7 linked regions of the Homo sapiens genome follow. The protein of the gene in region 1 purifies or fractionates together with the protein of each later gene. This does not show direct contact. Each region holds a gene or a part of one and is shown in the gene's direction. Other genes may lie near its edges.

Region 1 (5,051 bases):
CCATTCTCTGGCTCTCAGTTATTTTCTTGTCTCTGTATGATGGTGAAAAGACCAGAGAATTCAACTATCCTACATACATACTTTCAACTAATAACTTCTTTTTTAAGCCCTTACTTGACTTCAGCCTTCTTATACACCTGGTTCCTCCAAGTCTGGTACCTACTAGGATTGTGTAGGGAAAACCCAGTAGTTTATTTTTAGTATCTCCAATGAAGGAACTTTATTTTAGACATTTCTTGGAACTATTGTCAATTGCTCTTTCATCTGCTTTCTATCATCAAATAATTTGTGTATTTACTTATGTATTCTTAGTCTTTGTGAATTCATACCTTTTATTACTTTTCTGTCATTTTAGAGAGGGGTTAAGAAGAAGGAAGGATAATTGTATAGTCAATCCACATACTATTCAATTTCTACTCTTCTGCACTGATAATTTTTCAACCATGTATCTAGTTCACATTTTTGTGAATGTAATTTGAAATTAGAATTTTTAAAAGCAGACTTCTTAGATGTCCTCCATTATTGAGAGTACTTTGAGATGTCTAACAGTGGATACCATTGGTAGTTTCCAAGCACCTATTCCAACTATCTCCCTCATTATGCCATGCACTTTGGCTAGGACTGAAACCACCTCAAGTTTAAGGGGCAATCTCTGCCTGGATTAAAACAAAGGGTCAAAGATGGAGTCTTTAGATTCTGGGACTATAATCTCTACCTTTAATCCTATACATCTTGAGACACTGATTTCTTCAGTAACAGGCTGAAGTGCTCTCAGTTGGTCTAATCAGAATGAAGGCTAAGATTTTGTTCTATTATTGAGGAAGAAAATATCTCTCATTCTGTCTTCTTGAGCTGAAAAACAAAGCAGATAGCCATAGATGTTGCTGGAATAAATCTTGGGAAACTGAGGGAGGGCAGTCTTAGAAATAAGCCTGCTTTAAATGAAACTAACATGCTTGTGCTTGTGTATTTATTATTTTTTGAGAAGCTGGAACTAAATCAAGGATTCTCATAATGTGTTCTACTCCCAATATCTTACTTTACTTTCTAGCAGTTCACAATTCCTTGCTACCAAGGAAATCTATATAAATGCCTTCTTGTGCTATCATAACTATCAAAGTATGTCCCATCTCATGGTTAATCCAGTTTCATATCCTCTGAGAGGACTTCTAAAATGACCCATGTATAGTTTGCCTTTTCATTACCACCTAAGGAAAGTCAAGTAGTGATAGAATTTTGTACAGCTTAAAAATATTATGGTTGTTTTATGTTTCCAGTCTTCTCAGAAAGATTACAAACCACTGGGAGCCAGGAATCACATCTTGTATTTCTGTATTCACCACAACTAAGCACGTTTGGTTGTATGGAGAAGGGGGAAAGATAAATGCTTTAAGATGAATATTAACAGCATATCAAACTAAAGAGAATATGAAATAATTATTACAGAACGTGCAATATATTTGTAATCACTTGAACACAATGAATAAAACAATATTTGTTTCCGGAGGACATATAAGTGAATGGAATTTAGGTAGCTTTCACCAAACTGTGAAAATCTATGGAGACACTTGGTGGCGCTGCAGGATAACATCGTGAAAAATATATTCACTGGATGGCGTTGTGAACACTGATATCCAGTGCACACAGAGAATCAGAAGACAGAAACAACAAGCCTTCAAGAGGGTGACCTGGAAACCATTCAACAGGGTTAAAATCCTTAGACCACAGAGGATTTGGTGGACAAGTCAGAGACGCGTTCCGCAGAGCTGAAGCCTTTCTTCAAGAAGCCTACAAGAAAGGAACTATGGAGAACCAAGGGACACGCACTCAGCAGATAAGGCAAGTCCTGCTTCTCTTTGTTTTGCTCGGAATGTCTCAGGCGGGCTCTGAAACCTGGAGCTTTTCTGTGGCAGAAGAAATGCAGAGCGGGAGTTTTGTAGGCAATCTGGCAAAGGACCTGGGGCTGAAGGTGAGAGAACTGTCCTCACGGGGGGCTCGGGTGGTCTCTAATGATAAGAAACAGCGTTTGCAGCTGGACATAAACACTGGGGATTTGCTCTTAAGTGAAACACTAGACAGGGAGGAGCTCTGCGGTTCCATCGAGCCTTGCGTGCTACATTTGCAGGTGTTAATGCAAAACCCCACGCAGTTTTTACAAATTGAGCTTCAGGTCAGGGATATAAATGATCACTCTCCCATCTTCTCGGAAAAACAAATGCTCCTAGAAATCCCAGAGAACAGTCCCGTTGGTGCTGTGTTCTTACTAGAAAGTGCGAAGGATTTAGATGTAGGAATCAATGCTGTAAAAAGCTACACAATAAGCCCCAACTCTCATTTTCACATTAAAATGAGAGTCATTCCAGACAATAGGAAATACCCCGAGTTAGTTCTGGACAAGGCGCTGGATTATGAAGAGCTCCCGGAGCTCAGTTTCATCCTCTCTGCTCTGGATGGTGGGTCCCCTCCCAGGTCTGGAACTGCCTTGGTCAGGGTGGTGGTTGTGGACATTAATGACAACTCCCCTGAATTTGAGCAGGCTTTTTATGAGGTGAAGATTCGGGAGAATAGCATCCTTGGCTCGCTGATTTTGATTGTCTCAGCTTGGGATTTAGACTCTGGAACAAATGGTGAAATATGCTATACCTTTTCCCATGCCTCAGAAGATATTCGCAAGACATTTGAAATTAATCAAAAGTCTGGAGAAATTACTTTAAGAGCACCTCTGGATTTTGAAACGATTGAGTCATACTCAATAATCATTCAAGCCACAGATGGGGGAGGACTTTTTGGAAAATCTACAGTCATAATTCACGTGATAGATGTAAATGACAATGCTCCTGAAATCACTGTGTCATCAATTACCAGTCCAATCCCAGAAAATACGCCAGAGACCGTGGTTATGGTTTTTAGTATCCAAGATATAGACTCTGGGGACAACGGAAGAATTGTTTGTTCCATTCCGGAAGACCTCCCATTCGTGCTAAAATCTTCAGTTGAGAATTACTACACGTTGGAAACAGAGAGACCACTGGACAGAGAGAGCACAGCCGAGTACAATATCACCATCACCGTCACCGACTTGGGGATACCCAGGCTGAAAACCGAGCACAACACAACTGTGTTGGTCTCTGACGTCAATGACAACGCCCCCACCTTCACCCAAACCTCCTACACCCTGTTCGTCCGCGAGAACAACAGCCCCGCCCTGCACATCGGCAGTGTCAGCGCTACAGACAGAGACTCAGGCACCAACGCCCAGGTCAACTACTCGCTACTCCCGCCCCAGGACCTGCACCTGCCCCTCGCCTCCCTGGTCTCCATCAACACAGACAACGGCCACCTGTTCGCCCTCAGGTCGCTGGACTACGAGGCCCTGCAGGCTTTCGACTTCCGCGTGGGCGCCACAGACCGCGGCTCCCCGGCTTTGAGCAGCGAGGCGCTGGTGCGCGTGCTGGTGCTGGACGCCAACGACAACTCGCCCTTCGTGCTGTACCCGCTGCAGAACGGCTCCGCGCCCTGCACCGAGCTGGTGCCCCGGGCGGCCGAGCCGGGCTACCTGGTGACCAAGGTGGTGGCGGTGGACGGCGACTCGGGCCAGAACGCCTGGCTGTCGTACCAGCTGCTCAAGGCCACGGAGCCCGGGCTATTCGGCGTGTGGGCGCACAATGGCGAGGTGCGCACCGCCAGGCTGCTGAGCGAGCGCGACGCGGCCAAGCACAGGCTGGTGGTGCTGGTCAAGGACAATGGCGAGCCTCCGCGCTCGGCCACCGCCACGCTGCAAGTGCTCCTGGTGGACGGCTTCTCCCAGCCCTACCTGCCGCTCCCTGAGGCGGCACCGGCCCAGGCCCAGGCCGACTCGCTCACCGTCTACTTGGTGGTGGCGTTGGCCTCGGTGTCTTCGCTCTTCCTCTTCTCGGTGCTCCTGTTCGTGGCGGTGCGGCTGTGCAGGAGGAGCAGGGCGGCCTCGGTGGGAAGCTGCTCGGTGCCTAAGGGCCCCTTTCCAGGGCATCTGGTGGACGTGAGCGGCACCGGGACCCTTTCCCAGAGCTACCAGTACGAGGTGTGTCTGACGGGAGGTTCCGAGACAAATGAATTCAAGTTCCTAAAACCGGTTATCCCTAATATCCAGGCAAAAGGTCTTGGGAAGAATAGTGAAGAAAACTCCACCTTTCGAAATAGCTTTGGATTTAATTTTTAGTAAGAATGCTATTTACATTTGCATGTACTTTTTTAGTTTTATGTAACCATATCAATATTATTTAGTCTTAAACTAGTTACGTTATTATGCAATACGACTAATTGTATTTTTAATTTTTTCTTTTCTCCCCCAATTTTTTTTTTTTTTTTGAGACCGAGTCTCATTCTGTCGCCCTGGCTGGAGTGCAATGGTGTGATCTCAGCTCACTGCACCCTCCGCCTCTCGGGTTCAAGCAATTCTCCTGCATCAGCCTCCCGAGTAGCTGGCATTACAGGCGCCCACCACCACGCTCGGCTAAATTTTTTTTTTTTTTATCTTTAGTAGAGACGGGGTTTCACCACGTTGGCCGGGCAGGTTTTAAACTCTTGACCTCATGTTCCACCCGCCACGGCCTCCCAAAGTGCTGTGATTACCGGTGTGAGCCACTGCGCCCGGCCTTTTTTTTTTCTTTTCTTTTCTTTTTTTTGATACAGAGTCTTAGTCACCCAGACTAGAGGTCAGTGGCAGGATCTCAGCTCACTGCAACCTCTGCCTCCTGGGCTCAAGAGACCAGCCCACCTCCGCCTCCAAGTAGCTGGGACTACAGGCGTGCGCCACCATGCCCGGCTACTTCTTGTATTTTTTGTAGAGACGGATCGTCACCATATTTCTTAGGCTGGCCTTTAACTTCTGAGCTCAAGAGATGCACTCCCCTCAGCCTCCCAAAGTGCTGGGATTACAGGCGGCCAGGCCTATTTTCAATTTTCAAGTATTGCATATCATTGTGAATAACATTGTAAATCCTTTTTATATTAAGTAACAGGTAGTTAATCCATTTCTAATGAATAATTTTAAGGTTTTAATCCTTTCCAAG
Region 2 (4,479 bases), on another chromosome or scaffold:
TCTCAAACTCCTGACCTCAGGTGATCTGCCTGCCTCGGCCTCCCAAAGTGCTGGGATTACAGGCGTGAACCCACCACGCCCGGCCATAATGTTTTTTATTTTTTAAAGACAGGTCACTCTGTCACCCAGGCTAGAGTGCAGTGGCACCGTCATAGCTCACCGTGACCTTGAACTCCTAGGCTCAAGTGATCTTCCCACCACAACCTCCCTAGTACCTGGAACTACAAGTGCATACCACCACACCTGGTTAGTTTTTTTTTATTTTTTGTAGAGATAGGGTTGTACCATGTTGCTCAGGCTGGAATTCAGTGGCATGATTATGGCTCATTGTAAACTTGAACTCTTGGGCTCAAGTGATCCTCCCGCCTCAGCCTCCCATGTAGCTGGGACTACAGGCAAGTGCCACCACACCCAGCTAATTTTTGTATTTTTTGTAGAGACGGGGTTTTGCCATGTCACCCAGGCTGATCTTGATCTCCTGAGCTGAAGCAATCACCTGCCTTGGCCTCCCAAAGTGCTGGGATTACAGGCATGAGCCGCCATGCCTGGCCAGCTCATCTCCTTCTTAACTTTGTTGTTTTTGTTTTTGTTTCTTTGCCCTTGCTCTTTTTCATACTCACCCTTTAGATAAGTAGTTCTCAAACTTTACCTTGTACAAAAATAATTGGGGAATTGGGAGTTGCTTGCTTAAAATGCAGATTTCCAAGACACCCAGAGTATCTGATTCAGTAGGTTGGTGGTAAAGCGAAGGATTCTACATTTTTATCAAACTCCTTGGGAGAGTATAATGCAGGTAGACCACACATAGTCTAAGAAATTCAGTTTTAGATATTGCCATCCTTCCAGCTTCTGTTCCAGTTTTTTTAAACTCTGTACATACACCTGAGCATCAGTTACCATATGTATGCTGAGAGTATCTGCATTCCTTTTGTAACTTAGTTTTTTTCTCCAGAGTTGTAGATTTAAGACCTTTTTTTTTTTTTGAGATGGAGTCTTGCTCTGTCGCCAGGCTGTAGTGCAGTGGCGCAATCTCGGCTCACTACAACCTCCGCCTCCCAGGTTCAAGCAATTTTTCTGCCTCAGCCTCCCGAGTAGCTGGGACTAGTTCACGTCAGAAATCTAGTTGTCTTTAATTCCTTAGTCTCCCTTAGCCATCACCAAGATCTTTGTTTTACTAATTATATTTTACTTCTTCCCATAGCTACTATCATTACTCTAATTCAGGCCACCTTATTATTGCCGCAGCTTCCTGTTCTTCTCCTTTGTTTTATTTAATTAAAAATTTTGAAACCATCCTGGGCAACATGGTAAAACCCCATCTCTACTAAAATACCAAAAAATTAGCCGGGCATGGTGGTGCGCACCTGTAATCAAAGCTACTCGGGAGGCTGAGGTGGGAGAATCGCTTGAGCCCGGGAGGTGGAGGTTGTAGTGACCCAAGATAGTGCCACTGTACTCCAGCTTGCGTGACAGAGTGAGACTCTGCCTCAAAAAAAAAAAAAAAATTGAATTCAGAAATAATGCATGGCATTGTAAAAATAAACATCCACCATGCCAGCATGGGAATATTTAATAAAGTGAAATCCCTCCACCTCTATGCACTCTCACTCCCCAGGGAAAGCTACCTTTAATAGTTTGGTGCATATCCCAGGATATGGTCCAAACTCTTTCTATTGACAAGGTTTTGGTGGCAGGGAGGGAGACAGATTCTCGAACATATCTTATGTGACCTGGCCCTTCCTCTCTAGCCTTATCTCGGGTCATCCTTGAGTACCCCACCCTAACCCTAGAGTAACACACACAGCCATACTGACTTAGCTTTTGTGAGCATCCCCAAATATGCCGTGTTCTCACTTCTTCTGGGCCTTTGCATATGTTGTTCTTCCCCCAACACTCGAGTCTAGCTGAGTCATACTCGTCATAATATAAACATCATTTTCTCAGTGAAGCTTCTGGTATGCCCAAATTTGAATAAGCTGTTCTATGTGCTTCCATAGCATCCTGAATTCCTTTATGAAAGGATCTACCATACTGTGTTGGGCCTACCTACTTAGGTAAATGCCACACTAGACATTTCTCAATGAATCCTTATAGTATTCAGTAATATTTTAGTCATCTGGGGACTAAGCCTAAAAGAAGCCTCAGACTTCCATGTCTTTAAAGCTTTGAGTCACGCATTATTGAATCAGCCCGTAGGCCCTCAGAAAAGGTGCACAGTAGATGAGAAGAGCCATAATTTCAGAGATCATTCCTGCTTACCTACTGTAGTCATGTTGTGTTATGCAAGGGAAATCATCCTCGCTGTCTTTGTACCAGTTTAGATATCTAAAAGGTCAACTTTAATGCGCAGGCATCAAAAAGCAAAAAGTATGGGGCAACAAGAGACAATGAAAAAGATAAGCAGAAGAAAATAATCAGAAAAAACAGAGGCGTGGTAGATGAGAAATGGCAGCTGCACTGTTGAGGAGGGATTAGAACCAGCTGTGGGGTTCAGCAGTTGTTGCAGTTTAGAAGTCACTCTGGTGAAAGTAAACAGAAGGCGCTCTGATAGTGAAGAATAAATAAGAGGGCTCACGAGCTGCTCACGTCAAAAATTAGAACAACTTTGCATTCCAAAATGTTAAGGAGCAGGGTGTAAGCTAAAACCTGCGTCTCAGCTGTACTCCTTGATAGCAGAAGTGAAAACAAGGGGAATGTCTGTGTGTGTGTGTGTGTGTGTGTGTGTGTGTGTCTCTTTTACAGACAGACACCCTAAAAGAGTTATCTGTGCTCGTGGAGTCTCCTCTCTCTTCCTTTTTTAAGCCCCCTCCAATTCATCCTTCATCCCTATAACTCTTGTCAAGATACCCAGAGCCTATGCTCAGTTCTCACTAATCTTAAGTTCTTAGCAGCCCAGCATTTGTCTTCATATCTTACTCAGCTATTTTCTTACATGCTTACCTAAAAGAGTGGCTGACACATAGTATACACTGAGGAAACACTGAGTAAGGGAGAGAGAATGTGTGCAACTAAGCAACTTTTTACACCTGTAATAGCTCTTACATGCATTAGCATACAGAAGAGCCAACACGTATTCCTGGTTTTTCTTCTCAGTCCCTGGCCCTGACTTCTCATTTTCTTCTGCTGAATTCACCTTTTCTTGATGAGTCTTAGGTGTTGGTGTGCCCCTTTTCTTCCCTCTGTACATATGTTCACCAGATGATCTTTTGCAGTCTCGGGGCATAAAGTACCATTTATATTCTAAAGACTCTCAAATCTTACGTGCAGTTTCAACTTCTTCCTGAACTTCAGACTCATATATCCAACTGCCTACTGAACATCACCATTTAGTTGTCATCACAAATACATCATGTCCTAAACTAAACTCTTGATTTTCTACCCCACCACACCTGATCTTCCCCCATTCACAAAATTGCCCAGGTCCAAAATTTTGGTATCTTCTTGACTCTTTCTCATATCTCAAACCCAACGTAGTAATAACTTGTCAGCCCTACTTCCAGAATGTTTCCTGAATCCAGCCATGTCTTTCCACCTCCATTTCTGTAATTCCAGTCAATACTGTCTTCATCTCTTTGCAGAACCTATGCAGTGGCTTCCTACCTGGTCTCCTTGCTTCTACTTTTGTCCCCTAGATCTGTTATCTCCAGAGCAGCCAAAGTAATCTCTTAAAAAGCACAGCTGGTCATGTCACTCCCTTTGGGATAGGAGGGAAACAAAGAACATCAGAAAATCTTCAGTAGTTTCCCATCATACTTAGATTAAAATCTGGAGTTTTCCTTATGGCCTACAAGGTCCTGTAAGATCTAGAACCTGGCACCTGTCTTCTCCTCCAGCCTCAGACACCACTTTCTTTCTTGTGTGGTGTGGTGTGCTCTGCCTCAGCCATACCAGCCCTCGGGATGTTCTTCAAACCACCAAGCTTGATTCTGCCTTTGGACCTTTGTCCTTGCTTCTTCCTCTGCAGATGGCATCACGGCTCAGCCTCTCTCTCCTTTCAGGTCTCTTTTCACATGTCATCTCTTGTTCTAACTAGTTTTATCTAAAACAGCGTCTATTTGAGCCTTGACTATTGTGTCTTGATCCAGCTTTTCACTTACCTTCCTTTTAGAGTTGCAAATGTTCTACTTTATTAATTATGTTATTTGTATATGCCCTGGTGACATGAATTAGAAAATGTGGACTGGTAGCACTATTATAGGAAGTTACTCATTTGTGGTTCATGTTGAAAATGGTTACTAACTTGCTTGTCAATTAGGAGAATGGTGATTGTTTACAGACATGAATATTCTCATAAAATTGACTGCAACACTATAGATGTTCAAATCTAGATAACAACTGTGCAATACGTGTCCCTTACCTAGATTATTTTATGTAAATTTACAGCTGTAAGGATACATTTGTACATTTCAGGAACTGTGAAAATGAGAAGGTAAAATCCAGTTGAGGGTAAAACTTTAGAAAACAGGGATATAAGGCCAT
Region 3 (3,607 bases), on another chromosome or scaffold:
CTGGTCTCATCCTTGCGTGTTCCACTTGAGGCCCTTTGGTGTCTTGCCCCATTCTTGTGTTTATAAAATGTTTGAGTATTTCTGATGAGTGATGCTTGCCTTAGTCTCATGAATTCAGATCCCTTCATGTCCTTTAAGTATGCTCCTCAATGTGTAAACAGGAACAACTTTATGATTTGAAAGCTTTAAAGGAGATTCTTCTCCCACCCCCAACTTTATTTGCAATGGGATTTTTCCTAGGAGAGTTATGAAAAGTTGAAGGCTTCTAAGGGAATACTGTAAACATGACCCACTTATATTTATCACAGTGAAAGGCAAAATTATTCACTCAGAAGTAATATAAATTACCTCTTTAAAAAGTAACCAGAATTTGTCCTTTTTGGTTTTATACATTCACAAACATATACATTTTTCTTGAGTCTCAAGGTATTTTATATTTTTAGTCAGAAAAAATAATTTTTCATTTCAGTTTTCCATAAACTGTTACACAAAATATAAACCTAACGTGTATTTTTCAGGACTGCGTGATCGTGCACTTTGTGTGGTAAGAGGTTTGAGTAGTCCTATATGTCACCTAGGGAACAGACATTATAGCTTACTAGCAAATGAATATTCATGCCTTGTTTTTGATACCTCCTGGCAGCTTCCATGTCACCACTTGTTCATACCTGCCCAGAGCTAGTTTTAGACATGGCAAAATAGAAATCATCTGTAATTTATTAGCTAACAATGTAAAACCATCTTTTAAAGCCTTCAGACTGTCAAGACGACATGAGCAGCTCACCATATGATAAAAATACATAAATTTGACATTCCCTCTTCCATAAACCTTTGTTTGTAGATTTAATGTTGAACAGTACTTTTCCATAAAGTTCTAGTCACTTCTGTTGGCCTGAGCCACCAGATTATGATGTTGCCAGAATTCACTCAATTTGAATAAAGATGAACAGTATTTGTTTTCTTGTTTCCATGAATTATATCAGTATTCTAAAACATCGCTTCAGAAAGAGAACTGTTTATTTCTGCAGGCTTCCTGTCCTTTTGTGGTATGGTTTTTTGGCCTTATTTTCACTGGCTTTTCCTTCTCCAAACTTTGAGGCGTGATTTCATTCATTGAAGAATCAATACATATTTTGTTTCAAAATGTTTGAAACAAAAGACATAGATGGTAGACTTTTATTAAAACATATATGGATGTGGAAAGCACATATATTAATGCAGTCATCCCTTTTCAGGTGGGAAGAGAGCAAACCAGTTGATTTTTTAATTCATCCTTAGTACACAGAGAATATACTTTTCCTCAAGTAATATACCTGTTTGAAGCTTTAAGAGAGATGTTTTTGGTAACTATTTCATTTTCCCAAAGAAGTTTGCTATTCTTGTGTTAATTGTGTATACCTGATTGTTTTTTCCTGGAGGTTTTTGTTGTTGTTGTTTAGTTTTGGGTTTTTTTTTTTTTAAGAGGGGCAAGTGTTTTCTGAAATGATGCATATTTTAAGACTCGATTCATATTGCCACTGTGCTATCCTTGAACTACCAATAATTTTTATAAAATATCTAGTTTTTACTACTTTTATATAAACTTTACTTTCCAGATGAAGAGCTGAGCCTGATTCAAATGGTTTTTCTGCTTTATACTTCTTTTTAGTTCATTGGTTTTTATAGTAGAGGTTTTCTATTTTTTTTTTTTTTTTTTTTACTACATTTATATGTCTGATACATATACGGCTTTGGAGACAATCAAGTAACAACTGAAAATGTGAAAGTAACCATATCTGACAAAATTCCCTTGAATTTTTATCCTTTGCTTGCAACATTTAAGACTCAAAGTCACTGGTATATTGGATTAAGTTTTTTCCTGTTAATGCAATTATAGAAATACATCGGAGACACAACAAATGTGGCCATTACAGGTTTCATAAAATTACACTGACTTGGCTGTTACTTGATCTTAGGAAACAGCACAGTTTAAGATATTGTGAATTCTGACTTATACTTTATTAAATGCTGTAAATCTAAATAGATCCTGTTGGATGTGATGGGTCTAGTCCAGTTTATTTAAGTTCATGTTTCACTGTTTGCACTTTGCATTGAACAATGGGTTTATTCGCTGATGTAAACGGTTCGAGTGAAGAATTAATGCAGTAAGTATGACAACACATACACACTTGCCTCTCCCCATCTCCAGAAGAGGGGAGCAGAGTCCGAGCTTATCTAAATATGAATGTGGCCACAAAGCTGTGGAAGGTGACAAAGCTTAAACACCTTTGCCCTGGCTCTGCATTGTCACCTAGAGAGCAAGAGGTCTATAGAAACATCATGTCACATGAAACGATTCTCTGCTTTTTGGTTCTGAACTTGAAGTCCCTAAACTGCAAAATCTAAGAGTTGGGTGGTTATTAAAATGCTTTTAAAGTCAACTGTGGCACCAATTCTAATGTAATCCAACTTGTGACTGTTTTTTTTTGTTTTGTTTTGTTTTTGTGTGTGTGTGTGTGGCACTGGGAAAAGTGGAAACAAACATGTATTGAAATACATATTGGAAATAAAAATGGTTTGAGCGTCAGTGATATTCTCCCAGAATGTACTTATCTTACCTCGGCATGTACTGTAGTCACTCAGTATTTGTATATGTTGCTAGAATTTAGATTGTAAAATAGTGAAATTTTAATGTGTTCATTTGTTTTTAATGTATATATGTCTTGCTCAGATTATTTGGTTTAAATAAAACAACCTTGAGGTTTGTAGCTTTTCCTTATACTATAAAATGCCAGATTCTTCTATTTTAACCTCACTAATTTATGGCCAATATTGTGCTTCCAGCAACATTTGAAAATGACACTGTTAGTTTACTTTGACTTTTTCTATGACCAGCGCCATCCTTTTTTTAAAAAAATAATTTCAACTTTTATTTTAGATTCTAAGGGTACATGTGCAGAGTGCAGGTTGTTACATGGGTATATTGTGTGATACTGAGGTTTGTGGTATGAATGATCCCATCATCCAGGTTGTGAGCATAGTACCCAATACATAGTCTTTCAGCCCTTGCCCTCCCCGCTCCCCTCGCTCCCCCCGCCGCAGTCCTCAGTGTCTATCGTTCCCATCTTTATGTCCTTGTGTACCCACAGCACCATTCTTTTTGAAGCCTGATTTACTTTATATCAATTGAACTTCAGCAGCCACACTGCAGCCTATGGCTGTGTGGTATGAGGGGAAAATCACACTGATTGATTACATGTGATTCCAGTTCTGGTACCTTCCTTTTGCACCTCAAAAAGTTATAAGAGGAATCAAAACTGTGGGACTCTGCAAACATATGCTGGTATTCATGTCTAATCTGGGTTAGATCAACTACTACTGTTCTCCCCTTTATTCTGCTTTATAAGTACCGCATTCTGTTTCTGAGCCAAATCTAATGTATTTCACCCTTTATACACCCTCTTTAGAGAGGCAGGTTGGTTGTCAGTAATCAAGCCATGGTTTTCCAGTGTTTCCCAATTGTATTTATTGGTCAAAAGAGAGTAATTCTTTCTTCAGCTCATACCTCTTCTGACAACTTTTAGTTCCATCCTTATAACCTCTATTTTTCTGTTTCTTCACCTCTCAT
Region 4 (4,479 bases), on another chromosome or scaffold:
AAATTTAAGTCTATGCTAAGTTGTTTTTCACACCATCTATTGCCCATTTTGTTTCTCAACAACATGTGGCCAATTTTGGATTCATTAAACAGAGAGCCTTGTTTTTTTTCTGGGGCCGTGTTGACAGTTTTGATAACCACTGTCTACTGTTTCATAGCCAAACCTTTCATGGACTTACTATTTTCATGTTCTCAGTCTGTACAACTTTCTGAGCCTTGGCATAGGAAGGAGGCAGCTGTGGTGAAAAGCGCACTGGACTGCAGGAATCAGGAGACCCAGGATCAGACTCAAAATCCCAGCTCTGCTGCTTTAGGCAGACAGGGCATCCACAGCTTTGAGCCCCAGTTCTCCCACCTTCAAATGAGTTTTGAGGACTAAAGGAGATATGTACAGTTTGTGAAATGCTTTATAAATCCTAGTGTAGTTTACAGATACTATTTACCATGTTGTTGCTATCACAGTTTAACGTGTGGTTAATTTTTTAAGGAGGCAGGAAATACTGTAAGATTTGGTGCAACTGTAAACAAAAGTTGAGTAGCCAAAACAAAGGGTCAGTTGCTGTTTGGTCTTGCTTTAAAAAATCCTGTTGTGGACTCACTTTTAAATCATGGGCTGCAGTCCAACAACTGTTACTGAGGTGACTGTCAAATGATATCATTTATTGTGAGTATCATGGCTGTCTTGGAATTCTGTTTCGGGGTGAGATGCAAGGAAAATTAATTTTAGACATTATGTTAATGTAATCTGCATTTATACATATAAAACATCATTTGAAAAGTGAAACATGCTATAGAAATATTTTAGTCCAGTTAATAATTAAAAATAGGAGAAAGGAAATAGGAATAGTGATCTTTTCATCTTACTAGGGGCTAAAGTTCGATGTAGTTTTAAAAAAATCTGACCCAGCCCAGAGCCTGACAGAGTCGACATTCAGTGTTCAATAAATGTTGAGTGAGTAAATTAATAAATGAATATAAGCTAGTCCATTTCATTCATGAAGTGCCTACGTTGTTCAGGGAATTGCGGAGGATACAGGATAACACATGGCTCATTGTCTTCAAGGAGTTTACAGTCTAGTAGGCCGTAGTAATACCATCTTAAATTTGTACAGTGGTTTAGAGTTTCCAAAGAACTTTAAGTTCTGTTCAAGTAAAAATATTTCTGTTGTGCTAAATTTTAGCTTACTGTTTTAGTGGTTCATCTGACACATTAACAGCTGTATTTTGCTCTGTGCTATTTTATGATAAAGTAGACAGTTGCCACTATATGAGGGAGTCTTTTCTATCTCAAATGAGATAGATATGAAAGTACTTTAAAAATTATGAACATAAGTTATTAAGTACCTAACTCTTATATTTCTAAGGTCCTTTGGTTTTCTGGGCTGGGTTCTCTCCTTGTGTCTGCCTAGACACATGTGCACCAGACACTCCCGATAGTAATATCTCATTGCAGGCAGTGATTTTCCAGGTGAGGTGAGGTTAGGGTACTATGTAGTTTTTAAAAGCCTTAAGGGGATTCTGTATGGTTTACCCCTACCTCTCACCCTGCCATACTTTCCACTCCCTTCCCTCAGAGAATTACTGACTTTATAATATAAAAATGAGGAGATAAGATGTGGTAAGTAGAAGAAGGAGGCAGAAACATTTATGTTTAAAGTATACATATATTCCAAATCGCTACAGTTAAATGGTTATTTATGCAAGTAAATATAATACGAATTTTAAGTAAGGTATATGTTTTAAGCTTCTGGGAATGATTTTATATCTGTGTTACTGGTGGCTGAAGGAAGTACCCTTTCACTGTGTATTTAAGACTGCTTCCTGTCTTCATGTACTGGATTCTGCTTGTAGTGCTGTGTGAAGCTTAGGCAGTGCAGTATTGTACCTGACTGTCATATTTTTGCAGCTTAATGCCTTAAAACTAGGACTAAGAACTCAGCACTGGTGTATATGTTATTATTTCCCATTTTTATTTCAGAGAAAAATTCTCTGGTCCTTGGGGCTCCTCAAAAGTGACTTTTTAAAGTGATTAAATTTTGCATTCTTCTCAACTTCCCAATTTCCTTTTTCAGACCCTTGTCTACATCTGATCTCCAGAGGTTTCATTTGACTGCTTTTTCTGCCTCCTTAATGATGTTTTCTAAGCCTAGTTTTAGACTCCTTTGGGCTATGCTTATTAAAGTCACTGCAGGCTGTCATGACCCTTGGCTGCCTTGATTGTACATGTGTTCTGCAACTGAAACCCCAGATACCTGTGTTGCAATCTCATAGCCTAAAAGCATTTTGGTAATCTTGGTAGGCTTTAACTTTAACAATCCTGGACCTGGCACGAAAGTGATAGATTCTGTATTGTTTTAGAGGAGTGTTGGGGAAGGAGAAATTGAAATGTTTTCACTAACCTGTGCAGTGAAGTGTTTATTAGCTAAACTCTTCTATTTGTGGTTTTCACAAAATACACTTTAAAAATCGGCCACACTGGGATGAAAAAGCACTTTCCTCCAACTTTCATTATGATTCTTCCTGTCTGAGCAGTCTTGGCAGTTTAGTTTCATTAGGTGTTTTGAAAATCCCTTTAAATTGCTGCTGGGTTGAGGAGGGGAACAGGAGAGAACGTGATTCACTTCACATTATTTGCTTAAAAGCTTCCTGTTTTATCATTGATAGTCTCCTTTTTCTTCACATCGATTCCTCATGGCCTCTCTTGAACCTCACTAGATTTAGAGATTGATCTTAATGGTAGGTTTAACAAATAATTATTTACATTTTCTTACTAGTTATATGCTTGTATATATCTCATGGACCCAGTCCATGTTCTGTAAGCATTTATGTTCCTAGAATCTTTTTCTTTGGCCATTTCTCCCAGATCTCCCCACTGATACTGTTAACCCTTTGGGGTTTTATGTATATAAAGTGCACTTTGTTTTATCTGTTTCTAGGCTACCATCTTGTGGAGTTTGGAGGGCAAGTAGAAATTTCACAAACATAGTTAAGTGAAATACTGTAATTAGGTTACTTTTCTTCATAAAATTTAGTGTGCTCTTCAGATATACTGATTAGTTTATCCCCAGGCTTACTAGATTTGGGCATAATTATTTTACTTGGCTCTTGCTCAAGAATTAAGTCCAGAAGAAAAAGAAGTTGGCTGTCCAGCAAGCTGCATAAGTAGGATGGTACATACAACAGTAGATACACATATCCTTGTTAGACTTTTTCCACTGTGGATTTCTTCAGATGCTTAAGTAGTGACTTTTCAAAGCCTCTCACCTTGCATCCTGGCAATGGAAGCTTGAAAAAAGTTAATCAACTTTTAGAGAATATTGAGGCTCTGTATCTTTAATTTGACATTTAACCGACATCAAATTGTCTCAGCTGATGAGCCTTCCAAGGCACTTGTCTTCCCTGGCCTTTGAAGACAGTCATAGTACTGACCTTGATTGCTTTATATTTTTTTCTCTGCTGCCTTTAAGGATGATATGCCCACTTTGAGTCATGGGATTGTGGCACCAAAAATAATGTATCCCTCACCCCATCTCCTCTGTTGCCTTCTCTTTTTCAGAGCTTTTGCATTTAGTGATTAAAATGGTGTGACTACTCCACTTTCATATATCTGTTCATATCACTGATGAGTTTGAGCTGTTTAGGACCGATCTCCCACTCAGCACAGAGGAGTGGCTAGAAATAATCTCATTCTGTTTTTGAATCATATTGTTACGTTGTTCATCTTCAAAACACTTTTTTTTTTTTTTTTGAGACAGGGTCTCATTCTGTCGCCCAGGCTGGAGTCCAGCAGCGAGATCACAGCTCACTGTATCCTTCATCTCCTGGGTTCAAGAGATCCTTACACTTCAGCTGACCGAGTAGCTGGGACCAAAGGCATATACTACCATGCCTGGCTTTTTTTTTTTTTTTTTTTTTTTGCGTTTTTGCGTTTTTATAAAGATGGAGTCTCGCCGTGTTGTATAGGCTGGTCTTGAACTCCTGGGCTCAAGTGAGCCACTCACCTTGACCTCTCAAAGTACTGGGATTATAGGCATGAGCCACCGCACCCACCCAACACTTTTAAAAACCAAATAAATAGCTGAGTACTAAAATCAGTACTTTGCCTATCTTGTAGCAAGAATAGTTGAACATTAAAGAGAATGAATACTATGTTCATGTCCAAAGTAAGGATTCCTGTCTCAGAAAAGAGAGATACTGTCTGAGGCTTGAGTCGTCTTGCTCAGATGTAATAAGAATTTTTGGCCGGGTGTGATGGCTGTAACCCCAGCACTTTGGGAGGCTAAGGCAAGAGGATTGCTTGAGTCCAGGAGTTCAAGACTAGCCTAGGTAACATAGCGAGACCTCATCTCTACTAAAATTCAAAAAAATTAGCTGGGTGTGGTGTCACATTCCTGTAGTCCCAGCTACTTGGGAGGCTGAGGCGGGAGGATCACGTGAGCCCAGGAGTTTGAGGCTGCAGTGTGCCATGATCGTGTCACTA
Region 5 (4,479 bases), on another chromosome or scaffold:
CAACAGAGTAAGACCCTGTCTCAAAGAAACAAACAGAAAAACTGCTGCTATATACTCTTCACCTGGGTTCCTCTAATGTTAACATCCTACATAACCATGGTGCATTTATCAAGCTAAGAAATTAGTATTGGTACGATGCTTCAACCAAGCTTCAAACTGCTTTAATATTTTACCAGTTTTTCTAGTATTCTTTTTCCATTCTGTTATCCAAACCTTGATATTGCATTGCTTTAGTTGTCTTCTTTGTCTCTCCCAATGTGTGGCAGTTTCTTGGTCTTTTCTTATCTTTTATAACCTTGACACAAGTATTTTGTAGAATGTTCTTCAGTTTAGGTTTGTCTGATGTTTTCTCATGATTAGATTGGGGTTATGGATTTTGGGGGAGAGTACTGCAAAGGTGAAGTGCCCCTATTATTTCATACAGGAGGTGCATGATATCAAATAATTTATCACTTGTGAGCACTCTGTTACGGTGGTTTCTGCTAGGTTTGTCCACTGTAAAGTTACTATTTTTCCTTTCCCATAGTCCGTGCACTAGAAACAGGTTGCTAAGTGTAGCCCACACTTAAAGGGATGGAAATTAAACTCCACTTCCTGGAGGGAGAAGTATAAAAGAATTTGTGGACATATATTAAAACCACCACAGTAATTGGTAAATATTTTGAGAGAGCTACTTTGAGGCTTTGCCAGTATCCTGTTTCTGCCCACTAATTTTAGCATTCATTAGTGGATCTTGCCTGCAGCAATTATTGCTGTGGCTTCTGAAGGTACTTTTTTAAATTTTCCTCATTCTTTCTACATTTATTAATTAGAATTCTTCTATAAGGAAGGTTTTCCCTTCTATCTAATCATTTATCTCAGTTCAAATTCATAGATATTTATTTTATTCTTAGTGTTAGAATTAAATGCTATCATTATTTTGTTGCTCAAATTATTCCAGTTTTGGCCCTTGGGATCTCTTTTAGGTCTACTTCTGTGTCTTTTTGGCATATTTCTATCCTTTTTTTATGCGTATGTACATGCACACTTCTTTATTCTCTGACACTACCACATGCTTCAGGTTCATCTTGTTTTTTTTTCCTACCTCAGCCCTAGAATCAATTATTTCTCTAAGGAACCTTGGTTCCTTTCATTGGAGGATGATATTTTGAAGCCAAGATCTGGATGCTAAGTGTGCTCATTGCTGTGGAGTATCATTGCTCCTAGACTTTCTCAGTGGAAAGAACTAGGAAATGCATGTATGTATACTAATCCACGTATCCATGTACAATTATGTAAAAATCTGTATTTCTGTATATAAAAATATAAATATACTGATTGTCTGTGACTCTAACTGGATATGTTTTGATACAGATAGATTTACTGATGGATTGGTTGTAGAATGTGAAAAGAAAAGAGTAATGGATCACTCCAAGGTTTTTGACTTGAGCAACTGGAAGGATAGAGTTGTCATTAATAGAAATGAGGAAGACTTGAGGACGGTGCAGAGCAGGTTTTTGGGGAGAGTTTAGGAGTTCTGTTCTAGACTGGTTAAGTTTTTGAGATGTCTAATAGACATGCTAAGTAATAGAGATATTAAGTCAGCAGTTGAACATGGGAATCTAGAGTTCAGAGAAGAATGGTCCAGGTTACATTTGGGACTTGTCAGTATAGATTAGATCACCTGAGGAGTGAGGGTAGCTAGAGAAGAGAAGAAATTTAAGGACTGGCCCATGGGGCATTCCAGTCAGAGAGATAAGGAGGAGCAGTTCCACATAATGATAAGGGCTGAGGTGTGGTTATAGGGTGGATTTCATATCATTAATAAACACTTAATACCTATTATTTGCAAGATACCAAGTTATGTTTGGGGTTAACATCACTCCCTCCATAAATTTATAAGACAAATTACAGACTTAAAAAGAGAATAGCAGTAGAAGGCCACATACCTGATAAAGATATAAAGTACTAGGGGCTGGGTGTGGTGGCTCATGCCTGTAATCTCAGCTCTTTTGGAGGATGAGGCGGGAGGATCACTTGAGGCCAGGAATTTGAGACCAGCCTGGGTAGTGAGACCCACCCCCAACCCCCATCTTTACAAAAAGTAAAAAAGTATTAGCTGGGTGTGCTGGCCCATGCCTGTTTTAGCTACTTAAGTGGCTGAGGCAGGAGGATTACTTGAGTCCAGAAGTTCAAGGCTGCAGTGAGCTATGATCGCACCACTGCTCTCTAGCCTAGGTGACATCGCAAGACTGTATTTAAAAAAAAAGGTATGAAGTACTAATGAAGCTTATTAGAGAATGTGGACATGAGAAACTATGAACTCAAATATGTGTCAGCTATATTTAAACACCGATGTAAGCATGTGTGCGTCAAGAAACTTGTCAAGGCTTTATGTACACACTAGTAATTATCAACCAGTAGAAGTTTCTCCATATGTTAACATTAGTTTCGGAGGTTGTTTCTGTTCTTACTTCCTTTCCATTATTAGGTCTTGGGTTGTTAATTGTGCCTGTAGTCATTGGCTATCAATTAAGCCACTCAGTGAACTGATGAGGAGTGTTTCTGCTGCCCTCGACTTTTTAATTTTTGGCTCTCTGCTACCTTTTCACAATCAATAGGATTTAACTTCAGACTGCATACAATCAAATGTTTCCATTTACAAGCAGGGTTGTAAATCAAGCAGGGTTGGCCTTACCATCTGCCGTGAATTTGCCCCACCTTTTTTTTTTTTTAACTATTTCTTTCACATGTGGTCTTAGACATTCACATTTATCATCTGGTTATTAAAGTCAAACCCAAAATAACAATTTTAGAATTTTAAAAATAATTACAACATGTAGCCTGGTAAACCAAAGTTTTAGTAAAACATTTTAATTTCAACCCCTTTGCATTAAAAATAGGTAGGCTTTCATTGCCAGCTGATAAGAGGTGGTAGTATGGCATGAGGCAGGCAAATAGCACCTATCTAGTAATTATTTAAGTGTCAGTCACTCTTCAGGAACTACAAGAAAAATAACAGGTGTATCTACTTTGTAGGATAGGGGGCAGGTAATTGCAGGATTCCATTCTTATTTCTACCTCCGAATAGTCGACAAAGCTATTATCCAGGTTTATGGACCAGTGTGTTGTATTTATTAGTTGTGAGAAATCTGAGCATATTTATATGCTGAGTGGAAAGAGCCAATGCATTGAGTGCAAAGACTGTATCTTATTAGCACAGTTCCTAACAAGTAGTGGATATTCAAATATTTGTTGAATGAAAGATTTCAATAAGGTACTTTACCCTTATAAAATTTAAGACATGAAGATTTATTTAGCTTGTTCAAGAAAGCTGAAGATATTAAAAATTTTCATTGTTTAAGTCAGAGTTAGTGTAAAACAAAATAAATCTGTAAGGTAACATCCTCATTTTAGGCCAAGCCAAACAAATCATACCACTTTGTAAAAACATGATCACAGACGGGTGCGATGGCTCACACCTGTAATCCCAGCATTTTGGGAGGCCAAGGCAGGCAGATCACCTGAGGTCGAGAGTTCGAGACCAGCCTGACCCACATGGAGAAAGCCCATCTGTACTAAAAATACAAAATTAGCTGGGCGTGGTGGCGCATGCCTGTAATCCCGGGAGGCTGAGGTAGGAGAATCACTTGGGAGGCTGAGGAGCTACTCAGGAGGCTGAGGCAGGAGAATAACTTGAACCTGGGAGGCAGAGGTTCCAGTGAGCCGAGATCATGGTGAGCCAAGATCGTGCCATTGCACTCCAGCCTGGGCAAAAAGAGCGAAACTCTGTCTAAAAAAAAAAAAAACACACACACACACCAAAAAACAAAACAAAACAAAAAAACCACGATTACTGTCTTTCAAGTAGCTCATAACCTGCCCTCCAAGAATAGTCAAGAATTCTAGTTCAGAAGTCACACTGCCTGGATTTGAATTTACCAGCTCAGCCACTTCCTGGCCATGTGACTTTATGTTAGTTTCTTAACTGTGCTTCAGTTTCCTCATTTGTAAAATAAGGATAATACTTGTACTTACTTTATGGGGTTGTGAGGTGAAATTAGAATATATGTCATGCATATATACAAGTGTTCAGTTTTTAACTGTTATTCTAAAAATGCTAAGAGGCTAGTATCTTAAGGTTTTTTATTTTCTCAAAATTGCATATGCTGAGTGTTAAAGGAAAACAAATCCCTCTGTGAACAAGAAAAAACACTGACAGAAAGTATACCACTATACTCATAATGATATGTTGAGACAGTGAGTAATGGGTTTTCTGCTTTTTGCCATCTCCATTTTTTCTTTTATTTGTTGAACAGATTTTTATTAAATGCTTAACTATGCGTCAAACACTGGGCTTTCATGAGCATGTTACTTTCTGAGAGTAAGCAACATTGTGGTTAAGAACATGGATTTGGGACCCAGACTGCCTGGAGCTGAATCTCATCTTTACCACTTGGGAAAATCACTTTCTTTCCTGGTGCCTTAGTTTTCTTATGT
Region 6 (4,479 bases), on another chromosome or scaffold:
GCTAGGACTACAGGCACCCGCCACTGCGCCCAGCTAATTTTTTGTATTTTTTTTAGTAGAGACAGGGTTTCACCGTGGTCTCGATCTCCTGACCTCGTGATCCGCCCGCCTCGGCCTCCCAAAGTGCTGGGATTACAGGCATGAGCCACCGCGCCCGGCCCAAAATATTAAACTATTTTAACATATAGTCAGTACTTTTCTAAAATCTGTTAATGAAGAACTTTACATTCTTCTAAGTCTTCAAAATTCGTTGTGCATTTTTACACTTGCATCACATCTCAATTCAGACGCATCACATTTCAAGTGCTCAATAACCACATGTGGCTAATGCCTAGAATACTGGACAGTGCCGTCTTAGATAATCACAACTAGGATATTGTCTGTAGAAGAGATGGATTTGTTATTTCTGGGAATGGAATAACAACATTTTGTTTCTCTTTGTGGCCCCAAAACAAGCATTAGTTTATTAGCCAGGTGTTGACTTAAAAGATACAAAGAAAAGCCTCTGTGTTTTAGTGGGGTGAAGAAAAGAAAACTTGGCATAAGCATAGTTTTGAGGAATGAGAATAGGAGTGTAGGAGGAAGGACCTGAATTCAGAACAAGGGAAGTTATACTGCATAATATTGTGGATAAGTCCATGTGTGGATGGGACAGCATGCAGAGGGGAGTACTCAGATTTGGGGAAAATGTCTAGTCCTGGACTATGTTTCTGAGTCAGATGTTAAAAGTGCCTAGTTGGCCAAGGGACTATCTTCCCAATCTTCACCCTCCCCATACCTGCCCCATGAAATGGATGTCATAAATTATATAGCGACTAAAAGCAGGTATGATCAACCGGGCATGGTGGCTCACGCCTGTAATCCCAGCACTTTGGAAAGCTGAGGCAGGTGGATCACCTGAGATCAGGAGTTCTAGACCAGCCTAGCCAACATGTTGAAACCCCATCTCTACTAAAAATACAAAAATTAGCCGGGCGTGGTGCTGCATGCCTGTAATCCCAGCTACTCGGGAGGCTGAGGCAGGAGAATTGCTTGAACCCAGGAGGCCCAGGTTTCAGTGAGCCAAGATTGGGCCATTGCACTCCAGCCTGGGTGACAAAAGCAAAATTCCATCTCAAAAAAAAAAGCAGGTATGACCAGTAGAGGGTATACAATTCAGATAATTCTTTATAAATCTTCTTTTCTCCCCCCTTTCACAAAAAGAAAACACAGGACAATGGGTCAGAGAATGAGATAGAAGTTTAAAAATTTTGTTTTTTTTTTTTAAAAAACAAAGAGAAGGGAAAGATAAGAAAGTGGAAGAATTGTGGAATCAGACATAAAGAATATACCAATGTGCCCCTATTAAGGTAAAATATTGAACGAAGGTTTTTTTTTTTCTAAAGATGGAAAAAGTGTAGGTAAGGAAATATGACATAGAGCAAAGGGACATAACCAAGAGAAAACACTTGCTTTACCATTTTATTTAAAATTGCCTTCTTGCTTTCTTCATAGCTGTGCCACTGCATATGTTCTACTGGCTGAGGAAGAAGCAACAACTATTGTAGATGCTGAAAGGTTATTTAAACAGGCACTCAAGGCAGGAGAAACAATTTATAGGCAGTCACAGCAGTGCCAGCACCAAAGTCCTCAGCATGAAGCTCAACTGAGTAAGCAAGTTTGAACTGGTTATTACTGTCTTTTAGCATCTGTAATTTGCTTGTGTCTTAACACAAACAACAATAATAAAAAACTTAATACTTACAGGTTAGTTAATTTTCACTGGAAATAACTAATCTATTCACAATACCTACAAGCCAGCAAGACAGAAATGTGTATTAGCCAGAGAATGCTTGTGGAAGGGAATAGATCTGCTCAGGTTATTGAGAGAAGATGTGCTGCTCTGAGACTTAACAGTAATTTATTTCATGTGAGAATTGGGCTGGTCATTGTAAAAACATAACTCAAAAACTTTCAGCATTCAGGAGAGCCTTCTAGTGATGATAAGCAGCTGTTATCTTTATCCTCACCCTTACTCTAAGCAACAGTAGAGGTACATTATTTGGTTGGTTCTTCAGACTGTGTATCTGCATATAGTGCTAGGGAGTGGCCCCTTTCACACCATCTGATTCTTAGCCCAAAATCCAACCTCATACTTGGCATTGATTCTTTCTTTGGTTGATTTTTCTCCATGATGTGCTTGAGATCAGATGAGCCATAGCAACAGAAGTCCTTTCTGTTCTTAGATATGCTCTACCAGTTATGATTGAGATTTTTTTTTACCAAAGATGTTAGAATCAGCAATGATGCTGCTTCCTGCTATTTTTATGGCCAGAGGGTTTTAGTTTCATGATTTTGGCAAATAGTGGGTAATAAATTGAAATATGTTTATATAATGCATTATCTACTGGCAGCTAAGTTCTAAATCTTTTTTTATGTGTAAATTAAAATTTGGATAATGTTTTTCTCCCTAAGCTAAATACAGATATATATGGTATGTTTCATTAATGCACAGTTTTTATAACACAAATCTGTGGGAATATATAATTTTGTAGCCTGGAACTAATGAAACTACATCTTTAAAAATGTCATGCCATTTGTCTTTGAATAATCTCAAATACGGTTATGAGCTAGTTACAGAAATATTTGTTAGCTCTTTCTAGAAGTAGTTTTATAGTTTGTCAACTACTCACTGTTAAGAAAAGTTTACATTAGCCATGGAAATTTTGTTTTGGACATTTTTTGTTTTTCATTTAAAACAATAGAGAGTATCAGAATAGTAGATCATTTATGCACAAACTTAAATACTAGGTTAATGTTATATCTTACTATAATGTATGTATTTCTTTTTTGCTAATGGTAAAATAAACTTGTCAATCATACACGAATTATATATACTGTACTTAAGTTACTATTAGAGGCAAAAATAATTAAATGTGTATTTTAAGTTTTAATACAGAAAACTTGAAACATGCGCAAAAATAGAGAACACTCCTGTTCAATATTTATCATCCAAATGTAGACATCATTAATATTCTTCCATTCTGACACAATTTAATTTTAATTGACTCTTCCAAGGGAAGCAAATAAAATTAATGGATATGTTAATGAAATAGCAGCCCACAATACAAAAGTGATAGTTGTATCATTTTTTTGTTTTTCTAAATAGGGAGAGATACCAATGTACTGGTATATATTAAAAGAAGATTGGCAATGTGTGCAAGAAAATTAGGAAGAATAAGAGAAGCAGTAAAAATAATGAGAGATGTAAGTAAATTGATGATGGGACTATTACATTTATTCCTCCAGAAACTAAAAATTTAGTTAAGTTGCCAGTTATTTTAATGCAGAATCATTGTATTTTAATTGGTAGTTTTTAGAACAAGGTATTTATTTAATATACGTACCTTTCTTAAGGGTTAGGTCTTCTTCACAGCTATGGTAAGAAACAAGAATTTCTACTTAATGAATCTGGCTCAGCTCTATTGAGTTCCTTTGTTATGATTTTAATCTTTCTTTTCCTTTTAATATACAGTTGATGAAAGAATTTCCTCCTCTTACCATGTTGAACATCCATGAAAATCTCTTAGAATCACTTTTAGAATTACAGGCCTATCCAGATGTTCAGGCAGTCCTAGCAAAATATGATGGTGAGTCATATTCCCTTAGTTGATAGCATGGTTATTCTTTTCCAATTATGTAATTATAAATGTGGTTATATTCTAGTATTTAATTTTCTCTTTCTGTTCTTACCAGTCAGTATTTAGCACTCAGAGGTTGCTATTTAGTATCTTCTTTATCAGGACTTTCATTAGCAAAAGTCTGCAAGGAAGAACTTTTCTTCTGTCAAGATTTACTTGTTTGTTTATTGAGTGCTTGTTTCTAATATGAGTGAGTCATTCAGAATATGACAGTGAACAAGACAACATGGGAGGCTGGGCATGGTGGCTCACACCTGTAATCCCAGCATTTTGTTTTGGAGACTGAGGTGGGAGGATCACTTGAGCCCAGGAGTTGGAGACCAGCATGGGCAACATGGCAAGACCCTGTCTCTACAAAAAAATTTTTTAAAAAAATTAGCTGGGTTTGGTGGTGTGTACCTGTAGTCCCAGCTACTTGGGAGGCTAAGGTGGGAGGATCACTTGAACCTGGGAGGTTCAGGCTGTAGTGAGCTGTGACTGCACCACTGTAGTCCAGCCTAGGCGACAGAGGGAGACCCTGTCTCAAAAAAAAAAAAAAAAAAGACGGGGAGCCCTCATAGGATTTACAGTTTATTTACAGTTTAGTGGAGCATACAGACAAATGAGCAGCAGTTACATTGAAGACAGCATGTTTGGGAGATAATTGGAGAAGTATGGGTGCTGTGCACATAGTAGGGGTACCTTATTTGTTTTGGAGTGTCAAGCAAGCCTAACAGAGAAGTTGCTTAGCAGTATATACTATAAGAGCAATTCAGAATAACATTTTTACAATGCTTTTTAGTTACAAAGTTCAATGATA
Region 7 (4,479 bases), on another chromosome or scaffold:
CACCTTTTGAACTACCAAAGAGAAATTCCACCACCCTCCCCCATAGATCTAAGGCTAAATTCTGTAATTTCGGAGAAAGCAATGATAGGCTAAAGTCGCTGGTCATAGCTAACTTACCCTAATAGCCAGACTCCAGATATCATATGATGGTTCCCCACCTACTGCCCAGTAGAACCAACTTGCTCCTTTCCTTTATTCCGTCTCGGTGAATGGCTATCATATGGGTCCACCTGAGTTTTTAAAAAGGAATATTCTGTCTCTTCTTGATTGTGCGTTTATTCATTCATTACTTTATTCAACAAATATTTATTGAGTCCATCCTTTGTGCCAGGCATTGGGTTGAGGAGATCAAGATGAATAAGAATCTGAAATGCTTTGGGAAGAACATTTGTGTGTGTGTGTGTGTGTGTGTGTGTGTGTGTGTGTGTGTGTGTACAGTGTATATAAGCAAAAAATACACACACACACACCTCACATCAGATAGATAGATAGTAATGCTTGTATCCACACTATCTGTCATGACAGTAGGAACTGAGTATTAGAGTGGTGAGGGTCACTAAGAAGTTAGTGAGTCTGCTGTAAGACCCTAGAATTTCAGAGTAGAACATCATTTAATCCAACTAAGGGAAAGTGTTTTTCCCAAGGCCACACAATTAGGTAGTGACAGCATGTGGATCACAACCCAGCCTTTTGACTTTTGAATTTTCTTTATTGCTGCACCCAAATGCCTCACTAAAAACAGATGGCCTTCGTGGCTGGTTAGCTACATTGAACTTAAAAATAAGGACATGAAATTTGCGATTTGGTGATAATTTCCTGTTCTATCACTTGCATTTCTAATTATTAACAAACAAGCAGAATTTTTACTTATAAACTAGAGTATGACCTGACAGAGAAAGTAGGAACTTTAGGTTTAATAGAGAGGGATATGGGGGAAAGAGAAACCCAACCTTTACTGAGCAGCCAGGCACTATATGTGGATGCCTTGACCTCTGCTGTTACACTTAGTTCCTTTACCAGCCTTTTGAGGCCTGTGGTATTCTCATTTTACAGATGAAGAGACAGGGACACAGATTAACGACCCACGCAAAGTCATACGCTAGTGAGCCTAGGCAGGTCCTGCTCATCCTTTAGATGCCACTTTGGCCGCTTCTCCATTATGTACACACAGCACCATGACTCCCTTGGAGGTATTCATCACCGTGGGAACCTTTGCTCTTACTTTCATGATTGGATCCTGCTTCTGGCACTTGGTGGTGAGCTCCATGAGGGCAGGGGCAGTGTGTGCTGGGCTCACCTTTGTGTGCTTGTCACATAAGAAGCCACTCACCTTTTGTCAAGCAACTGATTATAAGAAGTAGAGCTGGGATTCAAACTCGGTTCCCTCTGTTACAAATAATCTGTATAAAATTATCTAAGATACTCTAAGATTGATTACATTCTATCCTTGCCTATCTAGTAGGTAGAGTAAGAAGAGGTCATTAGAAGTCATTGGGAAAATCAGGAATTAACTTGTTCATGTATCCATCCTTTTGTCATTTCTTTGGTTCTGTTTATTTTTCCCCCCAGTATCAATTGAGAATCTCTGACGGGAACAGCACTGATAGACTTGGAACCTAGAAAATGTGTCTGGTCAGGGATAGAAGAAGACAGCATTGTGCCACAGACTTGATTGTGAAGGCATGATCTGTTCTTTCACTAATTCTCAGTTTCATTTTGACCCTTCAGCAAATTCACAACCAAAATCAAGGTAGGGGAAGGGATGGCACACAGAGGAAAGTGCAGAAATATCATTTATATACCATGTATTCACTCTGAGTGGCCTAACTTTTTTGTTTTGTTTTTAACCCAATACATGTGTATTTTTAATTCCTCTGAAATTTGTGTTTTCTTAAGGATTTTTAGGTCTGTATTCATTCATAAAATAGATCTGTTCAAATGACCTTTTTCTATTCTTATTAGCACCACCAAATCAGTGTGTTTTTAATACTTAGATTCGCAAAATTTCTGGACATTTGGCAAAAGGCACAAGGCTGTCATGGAGCAGTTGCATGTCTTAGCAGTGAAAGGGACCAGGAGGTGGGAGGTGACGCTGGCAAGGCTTGTGCAGTGCCTCTACCGGCCTCTCTCTGGACCTCCCCTGCTTATCTCACACTTGACTGGGCCCTGCACTGCAGGGTGGGTAAAGGATAGAATTGCAAGCAGAAATTGTATTTGCTTTTGTTTAGTGAAGCCAAAAGCCTTAATATTATTTTTTGAGCTCAATGCAAATGGCAACTGACATGAGAGAGATTTTAAGAGCACCATAAGCATCTTTATAATCATGGGGGTGGAGGGCAATCCGGGAAGAGGGTGTGGGTGGGTGGGTGGCTGTGTGTACACATGCACTCTTTTTAAAGTTGTATTGTGTCTCTAACCTCTCCAAAAAAGACCAGAACCAATTAGAAAAAGGAAAAGGCCAACTTGACGCACAAAATTCTATATGCATGCCAAATATTGGAGTGAAAAACATGTAGCATTTGACTGAAAAGACACCAACCAACCATTAGATTTCTATGGTTGAACACTCTCAAGATCTTGCACTCCTGTATTTCATTTAAAAAATTACTCCCTGAAGTGCAAACTGACTTCAATTTTGAATAAAATTTAGCATTCAAATTTATAGCCACTTTGAAAACTGAGGGTTTATTTATATCATATGAACTTGAACAGATACTTAATTACAGCAACCCAGCAGCCCTTTGCACATGGAGAATCTGGATTTGGGAAAAAAAAAAACAAAAAAAAAAACTTCCCACGTAGGTTTTTCCACATTTTTCAGATGCTTTTGTAGCAGCCATCATTTATGGGAAATGGCATTAAAATCCTGCCGTAATGTAGTTTAAGTTTAAATTCAGTGCTTCCCAGAAGAGATTTTAGTGTATCCTATAAAGGCACTAAAAGGCTTATTTTTGTTTTTGTTTGTTTTTGTGGGGGGTGTTTTGTTCTCTTGAAAGTCTGGTTCTAATGAGAGAGATGTTGGTTCCTTGGAATGATCTTTGTGTGTTAACAACCTGTGCAAAGAACTCCTCTCTTGCTTGTTCTAGCGGGCAAAAGTCATCTTTGTTTGCGTGCAAGAAAAGGTCTGATTGAACTAGGGTGAGCCTTTCATTTTAAGCAGAGTTAAAGTCTGGGGTGTTTTTAATGTTTTAATCTCTGTTTAAGAGGTTTCTGTTATGAGAGGAAAATTGATAACATTTTTACCTCAGCAAACTGCCAGCAAACTGGCTCTGCTCTAATCCCACATTTATAGTGATTTATATTCTCCGTGGCAATGTGCTGTAACCTCAGAGTGATACCACTGCGGTGTAGATTGACTGCATTCCAAATGCTGGAATCACATACATAATGTTTTTACTTTTAAATAATATTCAGACACCAGAATAAATACCATATGTGCACTGATGCTGGTTACAATGGAACCTTGTCATTTCTTGTGAGGGAGAACATTCTTTGTTTCTGATTCCTGTTTGAAATAAGTATGCAAAAGATAAATATGTACATTGACAGCATTTTGAGAAGGCTCTGGTAGTTACACAGCTGAGGATGTAGCTATGATTCCTTGAAATGTATCATTTAAAACTAAAAATATTGCTGCATGTTGCCCCCATCCCTCACTACCATACATGAAGGCAAGGATTGTTATCTGACATTCCCAGAGTAGGGTAGAGCTTTTATATTTTATATCTACAGCAGGCTGTAGTAAGAGGACATCTGTTGAAGAAAAATTACCTCCGTGAGTACTGTTCATAGGAACAGTGAGACTAACATGCTGATGACATTGTAACAGGGAGAGTAACACACTTGATCATGGGAAAGGATGGATTGATTGGAAAGCCGTAATTCAGTGTGAGCCCTAATGTCATCTGATGCTACAAAAGCAGAATTTAGGTGGCCTAACATCATCAAAATACAGATAATTAATCTCTCCAGATCAATTTTCCCACATGATAAAAGTTAAGATTTAAACTTTTAATAAAGTTTAGAAACACCTCCCGAGTTATACATTTTTAGATTTTTGTTTTTATTCATCTTGATTGGAATTCAAATCCACTTAAACAGTATTTTTTAAATCAATTTGGTAGAATACCTTTCATATTTGTACATCTATACAAACTCCAACAAGTCGATCCACATTTGCTTCTTGGGGAAGCATTTTAATCCACGTTTGCATGATTACTATTTGTTTAGCTATATTGAATTAGTGCCCATAACATTTTAATAATATTTAGTAGATGATGAAACCCTGGGCATTGATACTGATGGCTTCCCAACCCCTCTGCACCTCTGTCCCCACCCAGTTTTGTGAGGTTTGCTCAGAATATATAGTGTGAGATGAATGTGTGAGTAATCCATCACAATTTATCTCTGACATTTCATCTGGCACATAGCTTGGTGGGGTAAGCCTTGCCTCCTTTGTAGAAGTGTTCCCTGTTATAA

What was found.
Region 2: the proteins of PCDHB11 (region 1) and TTC17 purify together in Homo sapiens (affinity purification with mass spectrometry; 2 studies listed by BioGRID and IntAct, with this or other methods). This does not show direct contact.
Region 3: the proteins of PCDHB11 (region 1) and DCBLD2 purify together in Homo sapiens (affinity purification with mass spectrometry; 2 studies listed by BioGRID and IntAct, with this or other methods). This does not show direct contact.
Region 4: the proteins of PCDHB11 (region 1) and MACO1 purify together in Homo sapiens (affinity purification with mass spectrometry; 2 studies listed by BioGRID and IntAct, with this or other methods). This does not show direct contact.
Region 5: the proteins of PCDHB11 (region 1) and PEAK1 purify together in Homo sapiens (affinity purification with mass spectrometry; 2 studies listed by BioGRID and IntAct, with this or other methods). This does not show direct contact.
Region 6: the proteins of PCDHB11 (region 1) and ST7L purify together in Homo sapiens (affinity purification with mass spectrometry; 2 studies listed by BioGRID and IntAct, with this or other methods). This does not show direct contact.
Region 7: the proteins of PCDHB11 (region 1) and ST7 purify together in Homo sapiens (affinity purification with mass spectrometry; 2 studies listed by BioGRID and IntAct, with this or other methods). This does not show direct contact.

Annotation. Positions count from the first base shown.
Region 1 is NC_000005.10:141,197,971-141,203,021, forward strand, and holds the start of PCDHB11 (protocadherin beta-11 precursor), read left to right. Parts: upstream 1-1,656; 5' UTR 1,657-1,804; coding exon 1,805-4,198; 3' UTR 4,199-5,051. UniProt on the Homo sapiens protein: Potential calcium-dependent cell-adhesion protein. May be involved in the establishment and maintenance of specific neuronal connections in the brain.
Region 2 is NC_000011.10:43,365,017-43,369,495, forward strand, and holds part of TTC17 (tetratricopeptide repeat protein 17 isoform 1 precursor), read left to right. Parts: intron 1-4,479. UniProt on the Homo sapiens protein: Plays a role in primary ciliogenesis by modulating actin polymerization.
Region 3 is NC_000003.12:98,795,128-98,798,734, reverse strand, and holds the end of DCBLD2 (discoidin, CUB and LCCL domain-containing protein 2 precursor), read left to right. Parts: 3' UTR 1-2,794; downstream 2,795-3,607.
Region 4 is NC_000001.11:25,433,406-25,437,884, forward strand, and holds part of MACO1 (macoilin), read left to right. Parts: intron 1-4,479. UniProt on the Homo sapiens protein: Plays a role in the regulation of neuronal activity.
Region 5 is NC_000015.10:77,409,385-77,413,863, reverse strand, and holds part of PEAK1 (inactive tyrosine-protein kinase PEAK1), read left to right. Parts: intron 1-4,479. UniProt on the Homo sapiens protein: Probable catalytically inactive kinase. Scaffolding protein that regulates the cytoskeleton to control cell spreading and migration by modulating focal adhesion dynamics. Acts as a scaffold for mediating EGFR signaling.
Region 6 is NC_000001.11:112,581,142-112,585,620, reverse strand, and holds part of ST7L (suppressor of tumorigenicity 7 protein-like), read left to right. Parts: intron 1-1,494; coding exon 1,495-1,649; intron 1,650-3,148; coding exon 3,149-3,246; intron 3,247-3,514; coding exon 3,515-3,629; intron 3,630-4,479.
Region 7 is NC_000007.14:117,214,522-117,219,000, forward strand, and holds part of ST7 (suppressor of tumorigenicity 7 protein), read left to right. Parts: intron 1-4,479. UniProt on the Homo sapiens protein: May act as a tumor suppressor.